2 separate regions of the Homo sapiens genome follow, and region 1 is linked to region 2. The links come from fine-mapping of genetic effects on gene expression. A gene starts in region 2. The other region holds a variant in brackets. All regions are shown on one strand. Distances are from middle to middle.

The links. PIP is the estimated chance that this variant, and not a neighbour inherited with it, causes the effect.
Region 1: its variant is fine-mapped to the expression of KLF3-AS1 in tibial artery (GTEx, PIP 0.96).

What each region holds. Positions count from the first base shown.
Region 1 is chr4:38,583,573-38,592,415 of GRCh38, reverse strand. No RefSeq gene overlaps it. Among named protein-coding and RNA genes, the nearest start is that of LINC02278, 24 kb to the right of the region's middle. The variant A/T (reference allele first, on the strand shown) is at 3,889.
Region 2 is chr4:38,660,354-38,669,196 of GRCh38, reverse strand. It overlaps KLF3-AS1 (KLF3 antisense RNA 1), which reads left to right and starts at 4,304. Exons shown (of 16, transcript NR_171644.1): 1 at 4,304-4,403. KLF3 (KLF transcription factor 3) reads right to left here and starts at 4,998. Exons shown (of 6, transcript NM_016531.6): 1 at 4,736-4,998. RefSeq lists enhancers at 1,835-1,884, 1,074-1,923, 1,924-2,774, 6,809-7,130, silencers at 4,258-4,607, 4,668-5,267, 5,278-5,547, 5,578-6,097 and a promoter at 4,736-5,538.

The DNA of each region.
Region 1 (8,843 bases), 77 kb after region 2:
ATGTGGACACTAAGATGAACAAAGAAGCAAACCTGCATACTCAGTTTAAAGTTGTATTTGTTTTTCTCCCAATGGTTTGCTCATTAAAAATTAAGTGCCTATGCCAATGCTGGCTTAGGCAAGGCCTGGACATTCTCTCTGCAGACACTTGCTGGTGGTCTGAGCTGACTCACCCTCACGCCCTCACCTCACATGGCTCTGCCCTTGGCGCCTGGTCTTGGGAGGTTTGCATTCTTGCAGCAATCTCGGGCTGCTACCATGCCATAGGCAAAAACAACAGGACTGTCTTTAGGGAATTCAGGAGTGAGTCTCACGGTCTAGCCACTGGCTTTTACTGCATGAGGCTGGGGGAGGGTTTTCCCAAATAAGGAGACCTGAAAGTCCTCTTCGTTGGGGATGCTCTTGACCTGCACAGTGCTAGAGTTGGAAATGTTTATACAAATGCACTTCACATTTTATCTGTTCTTTGGATAGGCCTGTAGAACATTCCAACTACACTCATTTCTTTCGCTTCTGTCCTTTATCCATGTTAAAGCCAGTTAGAGACACCGGTACTTAATTAGTGACTTTGGCATTGCTCACACACCTTGTGCCAGGAATGAACTGAAGATGAATTTGACAAGAAGCAGAGGTTGTGGGCGGGGAGGCTTTGGCAGCTCCCAGAGGAGCTTCCTCGGGCGTTTTGTTAGAATGTCTCATCCTCCTCTAGAGCTTTCCTGTGTTTGTGTGGGAGTTCAGTTCAACAACTTGTTAAGCACCTACTCCATACCAGGCACTAGTCCAAGTTAGGTGCTGGGGATACCAAGACTAATAAATTCTGTCCTTGCCTTCAAGGAGCTCAGAATCTTAACAAGAGATGAACCTGTGGTGGTGGCTTCAAGATGGCCACACATTCTCTCTACTCCTTCCCTCGAATTTGGACTGACCCTCTCTCTCACTAGCTTTGACCAATAGAATGTGGTGGAAGAAAAGTGCAACTTCTGAGGTTGGGACTTAAGAGATCTACGGCTTCTGCTTCTGTCACTCCTAAAATGCTACTTGTAAGGAGCATTTGTCACCCTGTAAGGAGCCTGACTTGTAAGGAGGCCACCATGCTGTGAGGAAGCCCAAGCTAGCCACATGGAGTGAGAGTGTGAGAAGAACCTGAGGCACTGGGCATGTGAGTGAACACTTCATGGACCTAGACTCTAGCTGAATGCAGCTGAGTGAATGAACCTAAGCCAATGCCTTGTGGGGCAGAAGAACTGACCAGCCAAGCCTTGCCTAAATTCTTGATCCATAGAATTGTGAACAAATAAAATGGTTGTCATCTGAACCCAGTAGGTATTGGGGTAGGTTGTGACACAGCTAATAGATCATTCAAACACACACACATATTCTTAGATAATGATAGAGATACACATAGGATGCTACAGGAGCACAGACGAGGGGTCCCAGAGACAGCCTGTGGTGATGATGGGATGGGCATTGAATGCTTTCCAAAGAAGGCTGGCTTGAGTAGCAAACTTCACATCTCTATAGACCTGGATGTGAACCAGGCTTGAGGGAAAGTGAAGGCTGTCTGGGTACAGGAAAACAGAACAAGAAAACATGGAGGTGATGAATAGCATGATACATATGTGAGGGCTTTTCAAGCAGGAAGTAATGGGTAAGTTTGCAGGGGTGTCATCATCATCATCATCATTGGGATAGATGCCATTTATTGAACACTTGATATATGCCAGATGTGGATCTAAGGTTTTCTATATGTTAACTCATTTAAATAATTCTAACAGCAAACCTATATTATCATTACCTTTTTACATTAGAAGCAAATGAGGCACAAAGAGATTAAATAACTTGCTCATGGGCACACAGCTGTCAAGCACAGAGTAAGGATTTGAACTCAGGCAAGATCTCAAAGAACTTTCTGTGCCTCTTTGAAGATCTCTGTATTTGCTCTGTAGGGATACAGAGTAACCCAGAGGTTTTAAGTAAGGGAGTGGCATGGTCACATCAAAAGATTCTACTGTTTTGCAATTTTTCCCACTTCAGTTATTTTCATTGTCTGTTGTCTGTTTCTCTATAGTGACTAGCAATGAATCTCTTATAACAAGCAGAGCCTGTGAGCTCATCTTTGAGAGGATGTAAGGAAGGAGGGAGGGGCATGGGTCACGTACAACTCCACAGCTGGTCGTAGGGGTGGAGGGAAGGACAGAACGCCCAGGGAGAAAATGGGTGTGGTGGCCACCAAGAGAAGAAAGCTGGCTGCATCCTTGACCCCAGGGAAGAATGAGGACAGCAGCACATGGGAACCAGCCTGTGCTAAACTCTTTGGAGCTGAGGTACCGATGGGATCCTAGGCTTTGCAGACAATCTGCCTTTCTCTCTTTCCTTCTCTCCATGGCCCTTCAGGAGATTAGCATCAAAATATTAAAAACAGCTGTTGAGCTCCTAACAGCAATTAGCAAGGAAGAGAGCATTCCATGGAAATCCAGAAATGTTCTCCTGGCCATGGCTATTGGCTTCTGAAGAAGTCCTTGAGGGCAACTGTGGAGTCGCGGGACCCACATATACCACATCCATCTTCTCTCTGTCCCTTGCTCTGTCTCCATGTCTACGGGCATGGAGCAGACTCAGCGGAGTCTGAATCTCTGTGCAGATTTGTCAGATTCTTGTTCCAGCAGCTTTTCATGCAAGGAGGGAAGCAACAGAGTGTAGAATAAGAAAGAAGTGTGGCTTAGGGCCTAGGAGAACCTAGAAGACCTAGCCTCCAGCTTAGCTTGGCCAATACTTGCTTTGTAGGATATGGGCAAATGTCTGAAGTTCCTAGGTCCCAAGGTCCTCATCTGCAATATGAGGGTGTTGGATGAAGATTAATCTTACCACAAAGCATAAAAATTACAATAGCTGAGGTTTACTACACATGGACTAAAAACCTGACCCTTTGCTAAGGACTTTTTTTACTTTTTTAGTTAATCCTCACAATAACCCAAGTTTAATGAAGCTTACTGAAGCCTTCCCTCATCCAATCCAAAGCTCCCTGTATACATTATCTATTGCTGTGTAACAAATTACTTCAACTCTTCATGGCTTAAAACAATAATAAAATGTATCATCTCATAGTTTCTATGGGCCAGGGATTGTGAAGCAACTTGGCTGGGTGGTTCTGGCTTGACGTCTCTTATGAATCTGCAGGCTACAGTCTTCGGAAGCCTTGACCAGGGTTGGACGATCACTTTCAACATGATAGGTTGGCTCTGGCCATTGGCAAGCTTGGTGCTGGCTATGGGCAAGAGGCTTCATTCATCACCACCTCACCCTAGGACTGTCTGTTAAATTACTTGAGTGTTCTCTCAACGTGGCTGTTCGTTTCCCAAGAATGAGTGACCCAAGAGAGTGATTTGGTAGCTGCAATGTCTTTCATGACCTGTCCTTGGACATAACACCCTCCCATTGCCTTATTCTGCTGCTTCTAGTTTTAAATTTTAACCATGTTTCTGATGACAAGGAATGCTGCAAAAATACTCTAGTTCAACAAAGAGTTATGATCACAAAATAATTTTTATCCATTCTACAGTGTTTCAGAATTACCAGTTGATTTTTAAACACAAAGTAGATATAGATGCCAATGGTGGCTACATCTTATTGGTTACCTGGGTTAGCCCACTCAACATGAAGAGGAACACACAAGGGGATGAATATCAGGAGGCGAGGATCATTAGTGGCCATCTTTGAAGCTGCCTACCACATCTTCCCCTTAAATTTCTATCATATTATTGTGTTCTATTTTTAATAGTTTTTATCTGAAATCATCTTTTTTTGGTAGAGACCCATTTCCTCCCCATTAGAAGATAAGCTTCCCAAGAGCAGGAATTTCATCCTTTTTATTGCTGTACCCCCAGCACC[A/T]GAACAATGCTGGTTGCATAGTTGTTGCTCAATATTTAGCATGAGATAGGTATTACTTTGCCAATTTCAGACACAGAAACAGAGGCTCAGAGAAGTTAATTTGCCTGAAGTCACATAGATATTAAGTGGTGGAGCTGAGAAACCAACTTATGCATAGGGACTGATACCCACAGTCTACTTGGTTGGCCCTCAGCAACTCCATTGCTGCCATTATGCAAGTGTCTGCACATGAAGAGCAGGACAACATCCAGGAGAAGGGCCAGGAGAATTCCTGGGTAACTGGGAGATACCAGGAGGAAGTGCATGAGTGTCTATATGAATGGATGCATGTGTATGGTTGAGATGGTTGAGTGTGTATATTTGTGTGTATAGCAGACAGAGAGAAAGAGAGGGGGGACAGAGAAAGAGAGAGAGAGAGAGAGAGAGAGAATGTGTGGATGTGTGGGTAAGGTAGCTGGATCAAAGGGGAGATAATGTACTCTGGACAGCTTATATGACACAGACCTGGAGATAATATTTTGACCTTAGCCTTATTGGTTTTCTTTGAAAAATTTTTCTCCAAGGAATATTCTTATTAAAATGACTAAGTAAATTTTCCTTTAAAAATCCCACATGCAATTTAAGTCATTGGTTGACTAGCAAGTCTACTGCCAAATTACACATGGAATACTAACTTGATTATGTTTGCGGGAATTATCCATTTTCTGGATTATTGGCCAGAAAAAGAGAAATACTGTCTGTTGGCCACCCACTCTCCATTCTCCTTTCCACCCTCCTGAGGGAGGGGCCCTGATATTCATCAAATACTCAATGGGGTTCTTTTAGAACAAAGCCTTATCCACCCCCTCTCCTTGCCTGGGAGCTAGAAATTTGGGGGAGGAATGAAGGGAAATGGTTATGAAAGTCCCTCACTTACTCTCCCTCCTCTGAGGCATTCTGGGTGCTGAGTTTTGGAGCAAGGGGTATTGTGTGTAGAGTAGAGGTTTTTGGTCTTTGAGTGAAAGCAGAGTGGAATCCAGGAGAAAGCCCACATAAGTTGATTGCTGAGGCTGGCTCTGATCTAGTATGGAAGTGAAGGTGGTGGTGGGGTCCCACAGTTACTTCAAGGCCCAGCCCAGTTTACCAGGGTAGGAAAGCAGAGAAAGATTTTGTGTAGAAGGCCTGCTCAGGAAAAATGAGTTTGCATTTAGCTTGAAAGTATCCTCAGGAATCTGTGGGTGGCTGTGGTTAGCTGGACCAAAAGCAGACCTGGCTGAAAGATTGAAGTAAGCTTCCTCCTCAAATAGTGAGTTGGTCTCCATCAACAGTATCTAGACACAGACTGAATAGGCATGTGTGAGAGAGAATGGCATTCTCCCAGCTGGTGCTTACCATTTAGACCAAAGTTCATTCAAGGAAGGTTCTACTGGGGCCCTACCTTATCTTTTCCATGACTCCCTGATGAAGAGGATGTAGCACAGTGGTCAAGAGCACAGGCCTTAGAGTTTGTGTGCTTCTGTTTGTGCCCTGGCTCTGGCACTTGCTAATTATGTGACCTTAGACAAGTTACTTAATTTCTCTGTGCTTCTATTTCCTCAAATGTAAATGAGGATACAAATTGTTCTTACTTCTTAGAGTAGTTGTGATGATGGAATTGGGATAATACATGTAAAGCTCTTGGAACAGTAGGTTGCATTCAAGAATTTAGTTAACTAACGTATATGGAGTAATATACATTGCTATGTGCCAGGCATCGGAGAATGATGAAGGAGGCCCAGTTCTGCCCCTCATGAAACTTACCTTCTAGTGTTTGTGGGGTGGGAGGTAGAATAATGCCACCCCAAAAAGATGTCCATGTTCTAGCCTCCAAAACCTATGAACATGGTAGGTTACATGGCAAAGGGGAGTTAAGGTTGCAGATGGAATTAAGGTTGCTCATCAGCTGATTTTGCAATAGAGACAGCAGCCTGGATTATCCAGGTGGGCCCAGTGGAATCACAAGGGTCCTTAAAAGAAGGAAGAGGGAGGCAGGAGAGTGTCAGAGTGATGCCATGTGAGGAGGACTCAACCGGCTGCTGCTGACTTTGAGGATGGAAGGGGGACCCAAGCCAAGGAATGCAGAATCTTTTCCTATGAGATTGGAAAAGAGGCTGCACGTGGTGGCTCGTGCCTGTAATCCCAGTACTTCGGGAGGCTGAGGTCGGTGGATCACCTGAGGTCAGGAGTTCGAGACCAGCCTGACTAATATGGTGAAAACCTGTGTCTACCAAAAACACAAAAAAACTAGCTGGATGTGGTGGCATGCACCTGTAGTCCCAGCTACTCAGGAGGCTGAAACAGAAGAATTACTTGAACCTGGGAGGTGGAGGTTGCAGTCAGCTGAGATCATGCCACTGCACTCCAGTCTGGCTGACAGAGCAAGACTCCATTTCAAAAAAAAAAAAAAAAAAAAAAGCTGAAAAGGGAAGGAAATGAATTTTCCCCTAAAGCCCCAAGAAGGAACATAGTCCTACTGAAATCTTAGCTTTAGTGAGACCCATTAAGACCCATTTCAGACTTCTGATCTCCAGAAGTGTTAAGACAATACATTTGTGTTGTTTAAGCCACTATGTTTGTGATAATTTTTTGCAGCCGCAACAGGAAACTAATACTAATGCAGATAAGAAGTAAGTGAACAAACAAATATAAAGTATGATTTCAGGTAATGAAAAGCGCTATGAAGAAGATGAAGCAGGATATGGATGACCGAGCCTTGGGAGATTAGAAAAATAAAAGATGAAGCAGGATACAGGGAACGATGGAGACGGCGGATCTCTTAGATGGTCAGGGAAGGCATCTCTGGGAAGATGACATTTGAGAAGATGTCTGAATGAAGTGAGAGGACAAGCCATGGGTCTGCGTTCCAGACGGGGGGATGGAGGCTACGAAGTCCTTAAAGAGGGGAAGAGCTCGGAGAATTAAAGTAGAATTAAAGGTCAGTGTGACCAAGGCACAGTGGGCAAGTGAGAAAGTCATAATGAGTGAGACCAGACGATGCAGAAGTTAGATACTACAAGCCCTTGGAGTTTGGATTTTACTCCCAGTGTGACAGGAAACCATTAGAGGCTCCCCTCCAATGGAGGGGTGACAGGACCTGATTTACATTTTATGAAGCTCACTTAGGCTGCTGTGTGAAGACTACACTGGAAGAGGTTAAGAGTGGAGGAAGAAAGCGAAGTCAGGAAGATACTATGGAAGAAGATGGATTACACTCAGCTGGTGGGGATAGAGTTGGTGAGCCATATCTTGGTGGTTAGAGCTGACTGGGCTTTATAATGGTTTGGATATGGGGTTTGAGGGAAGGGAGGAAATCAAGGATGCCTCCTAGGTTTGGGCTGGAGCAGCTAGGTGAAGGACAGGCTTTTTTTTGTGTGTGTGTGATGGAGTCTCTCTCTGTCGACAGGTTGGAGTGCAGCGGCGCCATCTCAGCTCACTGCAACTTCTGCCTCCCAGATTCAAGCGATTCTCCTGCCTCAGCCTCCTGAGTAGCTGGGACTACAGGTATGCACTACCACATCCAGCTAATTTTTGTATTTTTAGTAGAGATGGGGTTTTACCATGTTGGCCAGGATGGTCTTGATCTCTTGACCTCATGATCCACCTGCTTCGGCCTCCCAAAGTACTGGGATTACAGGTGTGAGCCACTTCACCCAGCCAGGGACAGGCTTTTTACTTACATGAAGAAGACAGGAGAGGAAAAGTGTGAAGGTTAAAATTCAGAATGCTTATATAATAAATGATGAACGTTATTATCAGCATTTGATACTCCTGACACACTGGTTTATTGTTTTCTATCTCCATACTATGCTCATAATTCCTCAATCTGGAACTTTCTGCTCCCTCTTCACTATCATGTGATAAATGCATATCTATCCCATCTCAACTCATTGCAACCTCTGCCTCCTGGATCTAAGCGATTCTCCCACCTCAGCCTCTCAAGTAGCTGGGGCCACAGACGTGTGCCCCCATGGGCAGCTAATTTTTGTATTTTTATAGAGATGGGGTTTCACCATCTTGGTCAGACTGGTCTTGAACTCCTGACCTCAGGTGAAGCACCTGCCCTGGACACCCAAAGTGCTAGGATTACAGGAGTGAGCCACCATGCCCAGCCCATATCCATCTTTATGGATGCCTCTTTTCCCATTCTACCTCTTTCCTATGTACACTAGGAGAGATCTCTTTTCCCTTGAAATCCTAGTATTTAGGTCTAATATTTAGGTCTCCTTAACAGTTTGCACTGGGATCTTATTTATGTAAGTCTTTTACCTTCACTATCAAATGGTAATCTCCTTGAAGGCAGGGATGTTCATTACTCTTCCTGAATTCCCTGCTGCATAGTCACTTGCACATAAGAGATACCCCATAAATGATTGCTGAATGGAATCAATGTTACAAAGAAGATGACTGCATTGAACTAGGGAGTGGGGAAGTTGAACTAGGCATTTTCTAAGGCTTTCTGCTCTAAAATTTTATAATTCATTTGATTGCAGGTTGCATGTCCCTACCTGTGAGACAATTTCTAAGCTGCGTATTCCTTACTTGATTACTGAGTGCATGGAGAATGCAATTTACCCTCATGCCAGTCCAAGGAAAGAAGAAAAGATTGGGTTCATGAACGCACACAAATACAGTTTGCTGATGCCAAATATGAATGGTTTCAGATTGTGCACAGTTTTATACTAGCCATTCTTTCTTTCTATTCTCTCCTGTCTCCCATTAACAGGGACAACCTTACAATAGGTCAAAAATAGGAAATGGTGGTAGGATGCCATTATTACCTTCAATTGTTCCATTTCCACACCTGTGAAAGAGTATCACCTGTACTATATATTTAATGATTTAATTTTGGCAGTACACATATGTATCTATTTCCAATTCCAAGATAAATATATATTCAATGATTACATAATGCAACATGCACTTAAGGGAAGTTGTTG
Region 2 (8,843 bases):
CTTCAGAAAGAATCCAAGTTCCAGAATAATGTAATTGTAATTCCTAGTACCTTAAAGAATGAGGTTGTGTGTATTTTATTTTTCTTAAACTCAACTGGGTGTGAAAACAGAGAACAAGAAATGCTGCCTAAGAAATCTGTCGTTTTATAGCAAAAATGTTGATTTGAAAATATTAAGAAGGCAAGTATCTCAAGGGGCGATGGAGACACAATGAAATTAAATTAGGAATCATGATTTATATGGTTAAGAAATTAAAACTCTTGTTCCCATCTTTCTGGTAATCATAGCAACTATAAGATAGGATAATTTTCCCCAACTATTCAGCTTAGCATTTAGAAGCTTGCAGAATTTTTTTCTGATAGAATATATTAGACCCTAATTATCTCTATTAACCACTTCATCTCCCTGCAAAAGAGAGAAGAAAGAATTTGGGGAAAGCCAAATAAAGACTCTGTTTACCAAACCTAGTTAGATTGTTAACAACTTTGGAACCAAAACAAACAAAAAAACCTGCTTCGATTGGAGTTACTTATGAATTTTAAGCTTAAAAGTCTCTTGTCCTACAGGTCAGCTAAGTATTTCCAGCTGCTTTTCCCAAAGGAGAAAGAAGTTATTGGGACTTCTAAAACTCCCAGCTTTTTTCATAGAAGGTTATCAGTAGCCAACTATTTGATACTAATAACTCTCTTAATATCATATTTTATATTTTCCATTTATACATAAAGAATGTGGTGGAATGTGACATTTAAAACGCACCATTATCATCAATTTTGGGGAGAAGAGAGCCTGATTTGCTGCTTCAGCAACTCTTTAAATTAATTCCACAGAGATGCTGTAGATGATTCCTTTTGATTAAAAAAAAAAAATCCCCAAGTAAGTTTACAAAAGCACTTTCCAAAACTTTTCTTTTTCAAGCAAATATTTCCTTAAATCTTAGTTTCTCAAGAACCAACAGAAAACTAATATTAAGGCAGGTCTTAAATAGTTATCCTAGAAATTCATTAACCCACAACTGATAGAATATTTTTAAAAAATGAAAAATATTATTGTAAAACAAAAATGAGAAGAGCATTCTTCTTGTTTTCAAAATAGAAGATTAAAATTTTCCAAACAATCTAGCATTAAATGAATTTGTTAATGCCAGTTCTCCTTTGAGCTTTTTAATTCTTAAAAACGGGTTGGAAATGAGGTGTAGAATATTGCACAGTGAAATCTTTGTCCTTAAAACATTATCCTGATATTTAAATCTTTGTCCTTAAAAAGAAATAATCCCGGGATTTTCTCAATGTCTTAGGCTTTGCTTCAATGATTTTTCTAAAGATTTCTCCTTCCAAACATAAGCAAGACTTAAACTAAAGCCAGGCTGCCAACATTGCTTAAATTCTCCATCCACGGAAGCCACCTGGAGCAGCCTGGGTTAAACGTGAACGAGGGTGGGCCACATCTTTCAGATAATGCTAGGTCTTCTAAACTGTAAGGTGTTAATCCTGATCCAAAATTGACAGCTTCAGGGCAAAATGCCTATCTTAAAACAAACGCCCTAACCACTTCAACACAAGAATTACAAACAAATACAAACAAAACTCCTTTAGGTTTCTTTGCCAGGATGGACCCACGTTTCCCCAAATCACAATCTAGCAATAAAAAATTTAAAAAGGTAAAAGCATTTATTCACCCAGACAAATGCAGTGGAGCAAAGGGTGTACGTAAAAAGGTTAACTGACTTCTCATTATGACATAACACAGGCGTCTTAAGCAATATCAAGTGTGTAGAGACATGATAACTCCATGGGTGGGGATACGGAGTTTAGGGGCAGGGACCTCAGCCTGGTCTGGGCTACTGATCTACCAGAAAACAGCCTGAAACAGGAAAGAGCACACATATGCCACTTGGAATGTATGACGCAAACCCCAGCCTTGAAACAAAGAACAGGAAACAGCTCTGCTGGCTGTGCTGGAGAGAAAGCACAGAGAAACATTTAGCCGGCCCTCCCTGACCCTATATTCATGAGCAGCTGGAGTTTTTTAAGACAACAACAGGGGGGTGGAGGTGTTTGTTCTACGGGTGTGAATAATAACACCAGCTTTATACAGGGGACCTGCCCTATTTACAAATAAGAGCTGCCACATACAGTAAACATCATAAGTGAAATGTGATTTTATCATATTCAAGCAGCAGAGACCTTCCTAATGAACACTAGCCTCCCTCCTGATTTCTTTTGTCCCTTTCTGCCCCATTCCAATGGCTAGTCCCTAGCTCAGATCAAATTCCGAGTTAGGGTAATGATTATGGTTCAGCCTCAGTGCATCAAGAGGAAAAAAGATAGAGCACTGCTGTTAGGAATTCAGATTACAATTGGGGTACCCCACAGAACCAAAATTGGAGCAACTGTAAGCCTCCTTTAGTCACAGAACTAAATTCCAAGACAGACTGTGGGACATCTACAGTAACCCAAAATTTTCACTGTCTTTTTCAAATGCAGTTATACACATCTTTGCAGAGCTGCTCATCTGTTCAACATATACACACGTTTATAGAAATTCGCCTTTTAAGAATGTGATTCTGTTCCTGACATTTATCTAAAAATTATTATGCAATCTGTACACCAGAGTACTAATTTCTAGAAGTCATTCTAAAATGTCTATTTTCCCTTTGGGTTATTTTTAAGATAGTAAAATCCATTCACAGTTCCTTTCCCATTATTTCTCTTTACTTTGTTAGCCAGGACTGTTTAACTCAAGCTTACGTTATCAGAGATTTAAGAATGTGGTGTGTGCAGACTAAGTACAGGTAAGGAAAAAAAAAAAGAAAAAAAAAGGAAAAAAAGAGCATCACTGTGCCCATAGCAACAAGAAGATTGGGTTTTAATTTAGAAACTTTGCAGTGAATAAAACAATAGCTTTCTGCAAAACTCTGTTGTCGTTTTGTACCTGACAAGGTTTTGTGGTCTAAGCAGTTACTTTTCTTTGTTATTCCCATGTTGAGATTTTTGTACTTGCATTCCCTTTCATGCAAGCTAAATGTTCTTTACAATGTATCATCATTGAACTTACCGATAGTACATTAGGTTTTTTTCTTCTAATAAATAGTTCTGCAGCAAAGCCCACTGACTGCAGAAATGAAGATACCAGTTTCTCTAGGGAGTTTAATTTAATCGAACATCTAATTTCAGGTTTCTATTAACAGCCTAAGGTCAACTAACATACCTCTTTTCAAACCAGAAGAAATCACTCGTGGACACTTTCCTTAAACACTATTACTAACTCCAAAAAATTTGTAGATATTAATGCTAGCAGATTGTTTTTTCCCCTAAAAGCAAGTCTTCTTCCCTAGGGTGAGGCAGATCATCCAGATGAATTTCTCTTATAAAAATGCTCCTCAAATTCGTACAGAAAAGGATAGCACAAAACTGCTGTGTGGAAAAACCTATAATGAACAACTGGCCTATTCCCCACTTGATTTTGCTGGCACATTTCAGGTACTTGTCAGAATACCACTTCATACTTTTTCCCATATACCAGACTCTTGTGAGAATATAATCAATATATTTAAAATGTCTTGGGTGATATTAATGGAAACATAAATTCTGAGTAAGAAATTCAGTGGTTAAGTGTAAAATGTTTATTTTAGTGAAATACAAGAAGGTGAGCAATTTCCAATTTCCGTTTAACTTGACTTATTAAAAATAAGTCTCATTCACATTCTTCTAGTATTATTGTATACTGCTATAAAATTTAAACCAGAAAAGTGCTTCTCCTTGTCAGTAGCTATCTGCCCAAAAAAATGAATATGACAATTCCAGATCTCATCTGCCATCTCTAAGAAAGCCACTTGGAAATGTTAGGTAGGTCCCATGGGTCCTGATCCAGGGATCTGTCCCTGGGTCCCCATCAGGCTCGGCTGCAGGCAGTTGCCTAAGGCGTCTTCCGCCTTCAGCCACGCTGCAATCCTTGCTCCAGGCACTGCGGCAGGTTCTCTCCATGCCCCCAGGAAGACTCTCCAAACCCGACCAGCTCATTTCTCCTGCCCCGGAGGATCCAGACGCCCTGGCAGCTCCTGGGCTCCAGAACCGAGAATGGGATGCTGCCTCCAATCCCAATTGCCCTAAGTTTCTTTCCAGAGGGCCGGGAGACTGCTCCAAGTTTGCTGTGGCGGGCGAGCGGCCGCGCGCCGTGTCCTGGGAGGGGGGCGGCGGGGGGCGCGGGCGGAGGGAGGGGAGGGGAAGGACGCGGGAGCCTGGGTTGTGGTGGTGGTGGGGGGGCACCGGGAGGGGGAGGAGCAGGAGCGCGCGGCCGCGGCGCTACCTTTCTCCAAACAACGTTGCCACACGCGGAGAGCACGGAGATTTCTGGGGCTTTGGAGGGAATCGTGAGCGGGCGGGAGGAGGCCGGGGACCACACAGGTGAGCCCCCGCCCGCGCCCTGCCCGGGACGGCGGCGGGCGCTGCCAGCCCCGCTCCCCCGCACCCGGGGTCCGCACGGTGCCTCGCCTCAACCCCTCACTTTTCACCGCGAACCCGTGACCCCCTCCTCCTTGCTTGCTCTCCGCCCCCACCCCGGCTAAGTGTAGCCGCCACACTTTCCCAAGCCCGCAGGCGCCCCCCCCAACACCAGCGCTGCACCCCCGACCCATTCCCCGCGGCCCCCTCCAGGAGAAAAAATGAAACCAGACTGGCCGAGGAGGGGGGCGGCAGGGACCAGGGTGCGGAGCAGAGGTGAGGGAGACGGGACTTACTTTGCGAGGCGCGGTGCAGGGCGCCGCCGACGAGAAATAAAGGCCCCGATACGGGCTGCCTGGAGCCCCCCGAGCGCAGCAATGTCAGGGCTCCAGTCCGGGCGGCGTTGGCGGCCGCAGGGGACGGGGACGGGCGCGCGTGCGGCGGGCGCTCTCGCTGCGCTCCGGCTCGGGCCCCGGCTCCGCGCGGCTCCGCTCCTGGCTCCCCTCTGGCTCCTGGCACCAACTCCGGGCAGTCACATGACGCCGGCGCCGCTCGCTCTGCGAGCCTCCCGGGGCTGGCGGGGTAAGTAGAGGCTGGGACCCGGGGTGGGAGGGTCAGGGAGGGGAGAGGGAGCCGCCGCGGCCGCCCGGGCTGGGCGGGTCCCCACCCACTTGGGTGGAGGCAGCCGCCGGAGGGGTCGGCCGAGTCACTCGCGCAAACACGCACCCCGCCCTGCGCCCTTCCCCCGCCACCCCCGCCTCCCGCGCCGCCTCCGCCCCGCCCCGCCCAGTCACCCGGGGACGGCCTGACAGACACTCATTATTCCCCGGAGCCGGGCGCCGCCCCGCCGGCCCAACCTGTCCCACGAGGCGCGGCGCGGCCGTGGGGCTGGGCGTGCGCGGCGCGGCCTCCGCCCCCCGCCCGCGTCCCCGCCCGCGTCCCCTCCCCGCGCCCTCCTCCCCGGAGTCCGCGCCCCGCCAGCCCTCCCGCCCGGCCCAGCCGCCGCGCCGCCGCCCGAGCCCGGGGGGAAGGAAGGGCGGCGCTGCCCGCTCCGGGCGTCACACGGCTGCGGCCCGCTGCGCTGCTTCCAAAACACACAGCCGGGCTCGCGGGCGAGCCGAGGCGGGGGGCGCGGGCTGCCAGGGCCATCGATCAGCCGGCTCCAGCGGGAAGGGCGGCCCCGGGCGCGGCGGGAAGGGCTGGGCCCCGCGGCCGGCGCGGCGCGGCGCGGCCCCTCCTCGGCTGAGCGCACTCAGCTCACTGCAAGAGAAAAGCCGAGCCGAGGCGGCCGCGGTGCAGGAGCGAGTGGGCCGGGCGGGTTCGGGAGGGGAAGAGCGGCCGCTGGGGCGCGCCGAGCCTCCCTGGCCCCGAGTCGCCGGGGTCAGGGGACACCCTGTAGGCGCGCTCTTTCTTTGTGCCCTGGGGCGACGGGTCCCCCTGGCCGGCGGCCCAGGCGGCGCCCCCCACCTCGTGGGACTTTTCTTTGAAGGCCCGGAGACCCCTGGGGCAAAACTCCCACGGGCCAGGCCTGCCGCTGGAGCTAAAAAGCGGCATTTGCGCAGTTGGGCTTGCCTGGAAACTTGGCAAACTTTGGTCGGATCCTCCCCTGCAGAGCGAGGGCCTGGCCTGGCGACCCCCTCATTTCAAGTCGCTTCTAGGGACCTAGCGCCCTAAGCTCAGTGGCCTTCAGGGTGCTGCGAGCGAGCGGGGCGGCACAAAAGCGCGTTCGGTCCAAGCCAGGCCCCTTCGAGGACTTTGTGTAGATTGGTACCTAAGTTTAATGCCTTTTGAGTTTCTTTTTAAACAGTATTAATGTAATAATTAATGTAATAAAAAGAACAAAGGACGAATTCGTTCGATTGTTTTAAGTTCTGTGTAATGTTTAAAACCGCCCCTGCTTCAGTGTATGGCTTATTATTGCTTCAAGATGTTTTAAAGGCCCTTTAAGTTGACCCATCTCGCTTTGATGCTTCATCCAGACATCGTGCTGCTTAAAACGGAGTGATAATAGTATATTTCGAGCCGCTTCATGTAGCTACACAGTATTGTAAAATTAGTACTCGGTAACCTCAAGTAGTGAAATCGCATATTTTAAATAACGCAAGTCCAGGAAAGGCCACGTGGAGGATACCCAGAACCGACGCCGGCTCATGGGACGTCGTGCTGTCCCATAAGCTTCATCTTTAAAATGTAAAGGGTGTGAGTTTTTTTTTTCTTCATAATGAATAAAAGACATTCCAGAAAAAAAAAGAGTTGGATTCGTGTCAATTACTAATTGCCATTTATTGATCACTGACATCATTAAATGGCTGATTGGCTGCCTTAAGGTTTGCATTAGCGGAACACCGTGCTAGGAATGGCTGGTGAAACTGGCTCATAGTAGGTGCTCAAAAAAGTACGTTTTTTTCTCCAGGGACACAGTGACGAGAACTTGAAGCACATAAACCATGTTTTTTACCTTGTTCATGTGGGTGTGGACGCAAAGGGGAAGAGCGAAATAGGCCTGTCGGAGAAAAGTGTGACCCAAGATAAGAAGGGAGTGGTTTTGATATGGAAGGGGCAGGCGGCAAAGGAGAAGAAAAGCCATTTTAAACAGTTAATTAGTGAACACTGTGTTCGGTGCCCTGTGGGAAGCTGCTCAAATGCAACTTGTCGGAAATGAATCTATCTAGTGCTGGGTAGCTCAGTGAAGGACACCATCATTCTTCAAAGTGCCCAACAGGGTGGGGCGCGGTCGCTCACGCCTGTAATCCCAGCACTTTGGGAGGCCGAGTTGGGTGGATCACTTGAGGCCAGGAGTTCGAGACCAGTCTGGCCAAGTTGGCGAAACATCGTCTCTACGGAAATTACAAAAATTAGGCATGGCGGCGCACGCCTGTAATCCTAGCTATGTAGGGAGGCTGAGACAGGGTGATTGCTTGAATTCAAGAGGTGGAGGTTGTAGTGAGCTGAGATCATGTCACCACTGAACAGAGTGAGACTCTGTCAAAAAAAAAAAAAAAACCAAAACAAAACAAAAAAAAAACAAAACCCCAACAGAAGCACCTAAGCCTTTCTTCTCGCTAGCAGGGCATAGCCCATGTTTCACTGAGTCCTGGACCTCCTTGGTCACTACCCACTCTCTGGCCACTATGCTGGCCCAGCCTGTTGCCACCATGTCTTGTTGGTCATCCTGTCATCCTGTTTGTAGTATGGGCTGAAGCATGAAAAAGGCATTGGAGCACGGGAGTAAGAGTGCCCTTTCCAAAATGCAAGCCTGATCGTGTCAGTCCCTTCAATGGCTTCCCATAGGATGAAGTCCTAAGCTTTCCACCCCTGCTGGCCTGGCCTCTGCCTGTCATTACAGACACTTCTTCCTCTTCTCTCTTCCTACTCTTTTCCAGCAACGCTGAACTTCTTTCCGTTCCTTTCTTCCAACTCTCTCTTCCCACCTCTGGCCCTTTGCACATGCTCATTTTTCTAGGTAGAAAAGCCTTGTCTTCTCAACCTGACCTCTACTCCCATTTCCCTAAATTCTATACATCGTTTCAGTCTTGACTTAAATGACATTTTCTCCAAATATGTATTCTCTCACTGCACCTTTGGACAAGTTGAGGTGCTCTGGTAACATCTAGTGGGGCGTGATGGGAGATGTTTGGGTCATGGGAGTGGATCCTCCTATTTCCCCTCTTGTAACACTTTCCGTTCTTGTAGTTGGCTATTTAATGATCTCTCTGTGGCACTAGACTGGAAACTCTATGAGGGCAGGGACCTTGTCTTTTCAGCAAAAATGTATTCCCAGGGCCCAGATGTTCAATGAATATTTGTCAAAGGAATAAATGTGGTTTATGAGTTGCGAGGAGGGAGGAGTCATTCTGAGCTGAAGAGGTGAGTGGGGGCTATAGGGAGGCAAGTGGCAGTGAACTATACCTCCATCAGTCCAGGGGCTTTGAAATGGTGAAGAGGAGGGAAGAGGGAGTTACCCCCCCTGAGTGCTTTTAAGCAACAGAGTGAGATAGTAAAAGCGATGCCTGGGTCTTTTTAAAATTCCTAACACTAGCACAGTGCCTGGAACATGGTCAGGTGTTCAGTAAATCCTACATGACAATCTCAAGTGTGATCTTTGTGGTAGCTGCTTTGCGCTTTTTCCTTGCTGACAGCAGGCCAGTCTGGTTTAGGTGTGGGAAGCCTATCCTCAGTGGAGGATACCCATGCCTGGTCCCAGCAGAGGAACCCTGGTTACTCCCAGCCAATCCCAGTGTCTTTTGCCAGTGACTGGTTGGAGGGTAGGTATGCAACCTAGTTCTAGCAAGTGGGACATGAAGGGAAGTGTGCTGGGGTTTTTTTCCTGATACAAGGAAATCCCCAGACCTGCTTTGGAAGCTGTTAGGTGAGGATGTGATGCTTGAAGCTGTAGTAGCCATC